Homo sapiens: one gene and its partner. Changing the gene in region 2 together with the main gene of any one other region gives a genetic interaction. Each region holds a gene or a part of one and is shown on either strand. Other genes may lie near its edges. The genes, in order: ACY1 and GMPS.

Evidence for each region.
Region 1: changes in GMPS (region 2) and ACY1 together harm fitness more than expected from each alone (negative genetic interaction), as found in Homo sapiens cells (one large-scale study listed by BioGRID).

Annotation. Positions count from the first base shown.
Region 1 is NC_000003.12:51,986,357-51,989,834, forward strand, and holds the end of ACY1 (aminoacylase-1), read left to right. Parts: intron 1-58; coding exon 59-148; intron 149-248; coding exon 249-305; intron 306-631; coding exon 632-705; intron 706-790; coding exon 791-840; intron 841-952; coding exon 953-1,097; intron 1,098-1,199; coding exon 1,200-1,268; intron 1,269-2,167; coding exon 2,168-2,247; intron 2,248-2,409; coding exon 2,410-2,470; intron 2,471-2,554; coding exon 2,555-2,719; 3' UTR 2,720-2,841; downstream 2,842-3,478. Other genes in the region: ABHD14A-ACY1 readthrough (NMD candidate), read left to right, coding at 59-148, 249-305, 632-705, 791-840, 953-1,097, 1,200-1,268, 2,168-2,247, 2,410-2,470 and 1 more. UniProt on the Homo sapiens protein: Catalyzes the hydrolysis of N-acetylated amino acids to acetate and free amino acids.
Region 2 is NC_000003.12:155,912,097-155,915,911, reverse strand, and holds part of GMPS (GMP synthase [glutamine-hydrolyzing]), read right to left. Parts: intron 1,494-3,815; coding exon 1,342-1,493; intron 1-1,341. UniProt on the Homo sapiens protein: Catalyzes the conversion of xanthine monophosphate (XMP) to GMP in the presence of glutamine and ATP through an adenyl-XMP intermediate.

The DNA of each region.
Region 1 (3,478 bases), about 100 Mb from region 2:
GAAAGGGGAGGGTGGGGCGGGGCAGCCTCCTCATCTCACGTCCCTGCTGCTTTTACAGATGAGGAGGTTGGGGGTCACCAAGGCATGGAGCTGTTCGTGCAGCGGCCTGAGTTCCACGCCCTGAGGGCAGGCTTTGCCCTGGATGAGGGTGAGCAGGTTGGCAAGCCAATGAGCAGCCAGGCAGGGAGTAGGAGGCTGCTAGTGGGGACTGAGCTGCTCCACCCTCTGAACCCCCTTTCCCTCCTCAGGCATAGCCAATCCCACTGATGCCTTCACTGTCTTTTATAGTGAGCGGAGTCCCTGGTGTAAGTATGAGCTTGGAGGGAGGGCTCACTCTACAGGCGGGAGGCTAGGCCAGAAAGGGCACGGTCCTATGCAGGGTTGCACAGCAAAGTTGAGGCCTGAGAAGGCCTTGAACCCAGGGCCTCTACCTCCCAGCTCTTTCCTATCTGAGCTTCTCTGAGGGCAAGCCCTGAATGGGCAGAAACCAGCTGTATGCTACGGGCCCTGAGTGGGGACAGGACCCTGCCAGAGGAGCCTGGAATGAGGGGGAGACCTGGGCCCACCCCAGGCTGATTGTGTCTCCAGCCCCTCAGGCTGAAGACACTGCCTTCCCCCTACACCTCCCCAGGGGTGCGGGTTACCAGCACTGGGAGGCCAGGCCATGCCTCACGCTTCATGGAGGACACAGCAGCAGAGAAGCTGGTACGTGGCACCCCAGGAGGGAGTCTGGGAGTTCAGGAGGCTCTATCCTGAGGCCACTGTCCCATTTAACCTCATATTCTCATAGCACAAGGTTGTAAACTCCATCCTGGCATTCCGGGAGAAGGAATGGCAGAGGTGAGGCAGCCTGGGAGGCAGTGGGGTGGCTCTGGGAGGCGGTACCACAGAGGATAGAGTCTGAGCCACCTCTTTTATCTGTTGCTGCCGCTACCCTGCCCCCACACCACAGGCTGCAGTCAAACCCCCACCTGAAAGAGGGGTCCGTGACCTCCGTGAACCTGACTAAGCTAGAGGGTGGCGTGGCCTATAACGTGATACCTGCCACCATGAGCGCCAGCTTTGACTTCCGTGTGGCACCGGATGTGGACTTCAAGGTGCCACCTCCACCTGGGTTTGGAGGAGGGATCCTGGGTCCTCAGTCTTGTCCTAGAGGCCTCTGGAAAGCCTGAAGGATCAGCTCGTCTCCCTTCTCTTAGGCTTTTGAGGAGCAGCTGCAGAGCTGGTGCCAGGCAGCTGGCGAGGGGGTCACCCTAGAGTTTGCTCAGGTATGGACTTGGGACATGTGATGGGAGAGTGTGGGAGCCGGGGGAGACCCAAGTGTGCAACAGTGGAGTGTGTGCTTGGTGTGTCTGCATATGTCTGGGCATTTCTTTATCTGTGACAGACACATTTTATTCCAACAAGCATTCATTGTAGAGGCCACTGTGGGTGCTGGGGAATGCTGTGGGGAGTAAAATTAGGCACAGTTCATGCCCTTGTATGGTGAAACGGGGAGATATAAATCAAACATTTATGTGATATTACTTTTTTCTGAGAGAATCTCACTCCGTCACCCAGGCTGCAGTGCAGTGGCACAATCTCGGCTCACCTCCGCCTCCCGGGTTCAAGCAATTCTTGTGCCTCAGCCTCCAGAGTAGTTGGGATTACAGGCACCTGCCACCACGCCCAGCTAATTTTTGCATTTTTAGTAGAGACAGTGTTTCACCATGTTGGCCAGGCTTGTCTCGAACTCCTGGCCTCAAGTGATCCACCCACCTTGGCCTCGCAAAATGCTGGGATTACAGGCATGAGCCACTGCGCCCAGCCGTACTTTCATATAACCCATGTGGTACAGGAAAGGGTGGCCCCTTGCACTCTGAAAACCTGTAACTGGAGTATCCAACTAGTCTGAGAGGTCTGGGGGAGCCATCTTGAGGAAGGGGCACTTGGGCTAGGATCTGAAGGATGGACAGGAGGTAAGTAGACGGAGGGTGGGAAGGTCCCAGACCTAGGACATTTGAGGGGCTGAAAGAGGACCTGTGGCTGGACTGGCTACCCAGATGTCTGGGTAGGTGAAGGAGTGGGGGTGGGGAGGTGTTATGTACTAGGCACAGCCCACTCTATGGGAAATAGGGCAAGATGCCCAGGCCCATGTCCTGATCCTGCCATTCTTCCTGTCCCTCAGAAGTGGATGCACCCCCAAGTGACACCTACTGATGACTCAAACCCTTGGTGGGCAGCTTTTAGCCGGGTCTGCAAGGATATGTGAGCACGCTGGCCAGCTCTCCTCACAGCCCAGCCCCCTACTCCTCTCCTTCCTGCTGCCCCCTCCCTTCTCCCTCCTTCTCCCACCTCTTTCCCACCTTCCTTTGCCCCTTCAATTCTTCGCTTTCTCCCTCCCCATTCATCAGGCTCTTTCTCCTACAGGAACCTCACTCTGGAGCCTGAGATCATGCCTGCTGCCACTGACAACCGCTATATCCGCGCGGTGAGCCACTTGCATATAGTGCCTGGGCAGTGGACTGGGCCTGAGTGCTGGCTTTTCCCTAACGGCTCTTCCTCACCCCTGCAGGTGGGGGTCCCAGCTCTAGGCTTCTCACCCATGAACCGCACACCTGTGCTGCTGCACGACCACGATGAACGGCTGCATGAGGCTGTGTTCCTCCGTGGGGTGGACATATATACACGCCTGCTGCCTGCCCTTGCCAGTGTGCCTGCCCTGCCCAGTGACAGCTGAGCCCTGGAACTCCTAAACCTTTGCCCCTGGGGCTTCCATCCCAACCAGTGCCAAGGACCTCCTCTTCCCCCTTCCAAATAATAAAGTCTATGGACAGGGCTGTCTCTGAAGTACTAACACAAGGACACTCGTGGAGCAAGAATTTTCCTTTTCCTGGGGACATGTTACCATCTCCATTTCACAGATGAGGAAACTGAGCCTGGCTGTTAGCACTTCCCCACTACCCCACACTGCTCTGTGCCCCTTGACACAGCACACCCATTCAGTACCATCCAGCCATGTCTGTGCCTAGCAAGAAAGGGCCACAGTTCCTATTTGAGTGGCCACCATACTTAGTTCTGACCTATCAGGGATTCCATTCCCATTAAAGAGGGATACTAAGGACCTCAGGAACCACTCCCATCTTCCTGGGTGTACATCTGGGATCCTGAGACAGTACCAGAATAGCACCAGCTGGGCCCCTGCTAGATGAGGGGCAGGCAGAGGGCCAACGGTGACTGCTGGCTCCTGTCAAAACCTGTACACCCTTGTGTTGGCAGCAGGGGCCACAGAGGGGCAGGGTCCCTGGTAGACTAGGTCAGTTCATCTTAGAGGCCTCAGCACCCTGGATCTGTGTGTGCAGAGGCCCAGGAACTGGGCTTTCATCTCAGCCTTGCTAGGACCCCCAGGTAGTACCAAGAGTAAACTATGGCCCCAGTAGCAGAGCCTGATCTAGCCAGATCTGCTCTATCCTGTTCTGACTTCCCTGAGCATGGGGCA
Region 2 (3,815 bases):
AAAATAAAATCCACCAATCTCCAAAATAAACTCCTTAATGAACATGTCCTCTAACACGATTCAAAAAGGTACATGAGGCCAAACACAGTGGCTCACGCCTGTAATCCCAGCACTTTGGGAGGCTGAGTGGGGTGGATCACTTGAGGCCAGGAGTTCGAGACCAGCCTGGCCAACATGATGAAACACCATCTCTACTAAATATACAAAATTAGTGGCCAGGTGTGGTGGCTCACGCCTGTAATCCCAGCACTTTGGGAGGCAAGGCAGGCAGATCACAAGGTCAGGAGTTTGAGACCAGCCTGACTAACATGGTGAAACCCCGTCTCTACTAAAAATACAAAAACTAGCCGGGCATGGTGGCACACGCCTGTAATCCCAGCTACTCAGGAAGTTGAGGCAGGAGAATCGCTTGAACCCTGGAGGCAAAGTTTGCAGTGAGCCAAGATTGCACCACTACACTCCAGCCTGGGCGGCAGAGTGAGACTCCATCTCAAAAAAAGAAAAAAATTAGCTGGGCATGGTGGTGCATGCCTGTAATCCCAGCTACTCGGGAGGCTGAGGCAGGAGAATCGCTTGAACCCAGCAGGTGAAAGTTGCCGTGAGCCAAGATCGCTCCATTGTACTCCAGCCTGAGTGACAAGAACAAAACTCCGCCTCCAAAAAAAAAAAAAAACAAAAACAAAGGTATGTGAACATTCCATTCAAGAGCTTGAAATTAGCCATTGAGATAATCAATGAATTAAAGTCTATGATAAGCTGAATACATCTACTCTTAAAGACATCTATTCTTAAAATAATAGCCTGGCAATGTAGGCAAACATGTTTATTAAAACATAAAACAGTTGGCTGGGCATAGTGGCTCACACCTGTAATCCCAGAAGTTCGGGAGGCTGAGGCGGGCGGATCATGAGGTCAGGAGATCCGGACCAACCTGGCCAACATGGTGAAACCCCCGTCTCTACTAAAAGTACAAAAATTAGCTGGGCATGATGGTGCACCCCTGTAGTCCCAGCTACTTAGGAGGCTGAGGCAGGAGAATCACTTGAACCCAGAAGGCAGAGGTTGCAGCGAGCCGAGATCGTGCAACTGCACTCCAGCCCAGCCTGGTGACACAGCAAGACTCTGTCTCAAAAAAACAAAAAAAAAACCAAACAACAACAAAAAAACATAAAACAGTTTCTACTGGTCAATATAATGACAATATACAATAAAACTCTCAGCCACATAAGAAAAAGGATTAAAATTAGCTAATTTGGTTATTTGATATAGTGACAAGGAAAAACAAATACTAAGATTCACATCAAAAATAGTACATGTTGAGGATATTAAAAACAAAGGTACCTTAACAAAAGTATCCCCAATGATTTTTCTTTTCTCTTCAGGACTTGTGGTCATATTTAACGTTTTGCTAATTCTTTTCCGTGGGGTTCTATCTTCATCTGATATTGGTAGGGTTGTTGTTCCATTGTAGAAAGAATGAGCAGCATTTATCACTGGAGGAAAGGGGAGAAGCGTTTTAAATTGGTATAACATGTTTTTTAATCAAAAATAACAAGTCAAAATACAGAAAGAAAAGCTATTTCTTTCCCAGTCTGAAGAGCAGTCCTTTGATCTCCCCTAAATCTGCCTACAAATTTCAATAAACTATCAATATTCAAGAATTATTGGCCGGGCCCGGTGGCTCATGCCTATAATCCCAGCACTTTGGGAGGCCGAGACAGGTGGATCACGAGGTCAGGAGATCAAGACCATCCTGGCTAACATGGTGAAATCCCATCACTACTAAAAATACAAAAAATTAGCTGGGTGTGGTGACGGGTGCCTGTAGTCCCAGCTACTTGGGAAGCCGAGGCAGGAGAATGGTGTGAACCCGGGAGGCGGAGCTTGCAGTGAGCAGAGATTGTGCCACTGCACTCCAGCCTGGGTGACAGAGAGAGACTCCATCCCCAAAAAAAAAATAAGAAAAGAAAAAGAACTATCAATAAATCCTGAGTAACAGAATTCAGATACAGGCACTCATTAAATTTTGTTTCTGTGAGAATCTCCTGGCATTTAGATCTAGGGCCATGACATCACAAATTATGCTGATTAGGGCCGGCACGGTGGCTCACACCTGTAATACCAGCACTTTGGGAGGCCAAGTTGGGTGGATCACTTGAGGTCAGCAGTGTGAGACCAGCCTGGCCAAAATGGCAAAACCACATCTCTACTAAAAACACAAAAATTAGTGGGGCGTAGTGGCACATGTCTGCAATCCCAGCTACTCAGAGGCTGAGGCAAGAGAATTGCTTAAACCTGGGAGGCAGAGGTTGCAGTGAGCCGAGGTTGTGCCACTGCATTCTGCCCTGGGCAACAGAACAAGACTCTGTCTCAAAAAAAAAAAAAAAATTTATGCTGATTGTTTTCCCTCTCTTCAGTGCTTCACCAGAGCAACAAGCAGAAGCCACAGCAAGAAGCTTAGCCCCAAAGAAGTCAAAAGCACCGGCTCCTAAACGGAGTCAAAGCTGTTGGAATCACACCCTAGTGTCTTGTAAAACTAATATTTATGAACATACATTTAACAATCCTTGGCTTTTTATTTAATGACAAGAAACTAAAAACTAAGATCTCTATTTGCTAATAAAACTTAGCTACTGGAGGCCTTCACCGTAAGATGACAAGGCAGCTGGCTATTTCATTGTGGAAAAGCCAGTGAATTTGTAGGTCTTTCCTGTACCTGGTCAACTACCCAGAGAAGACATATCTACTCTCCTGCCTATTGGCATTCTGGCAGTTAAACAGAGGAAGTGGTAGGAAGAGGGAATCACCATTCAGCATAGAGAATTTTACTTAATCCTGTTCTTAATGTAGAGTCTTACCTCCACCCTCAACTATGCCTGGTATTAGTAGGCTCAAGCCCAGAACCTCTCGTTTAGCCCCTCTAGAGAATACATCCACAGTGTTCTGATGGGGAAGGAGAGCACAGTTTGCTCCTGTGCTAAGGAAAAGGATCTGCTTCTCAGATTTTTAACTAATCCCTGTTTTAGGCTAACCCAGAGACCAATGTCCCAAAAAGAACCCAATGCTTCAAATTCCTGAGCCTCCCCAGAAGTCTACAGCACAAATCAGCTTGCTTTTTATTGGCTTCCTTCCCACCCCACCCCAAGGTTGTGAATTCCTCCATTCTGCTATGTCAGTTACCAGGGACAGATCCAAGTTTTACAATTTGAAGGACTCCTTCAAGAACCAGAATAACAAATAAGATACTAAAAATCTTAAGTTATACTGGGATGGCTAACAAGTACTTAACTATACACAGAAATAATTGCAAATCACATATATACCACTAAACCCATACTAAGCACATCCCCAGCTCATCTTTGTCTTAGCCTGATTTCAAAATGCCCACAGCTATTCCAGCACCACCTAACAGAAAACAAGTCAGAGTTGAAAGAAAATAAACAACTACAAATTATCAAAATATCTTGCAAATTTCACAAAAACCTATCACCATGTGAAGATACCATTGGGGACCTTCCCAGGATGTTGGGAGAGACCCCCCTAGCTTAAACAGAGAAAATCCACCTTTACCCATCTGCTTTCCACTTTCCAACACTTTATTGAAACCATCTGTCTTCTGTCATCTCCTCTATCCCACATCCTTAAGGTATTACACTGTTTTATGCTTTTACTGTTATTTTAGAGAAGTTTCAAAAAAATAGACTCATGTTCACATCATACTTACCTACAAGTCTTCATTTTATTCAGCCTTTTGGTATCAATTCCAATTAATTCCATAATATGTACAATAACTTTTATCATTAAACTACTGACCT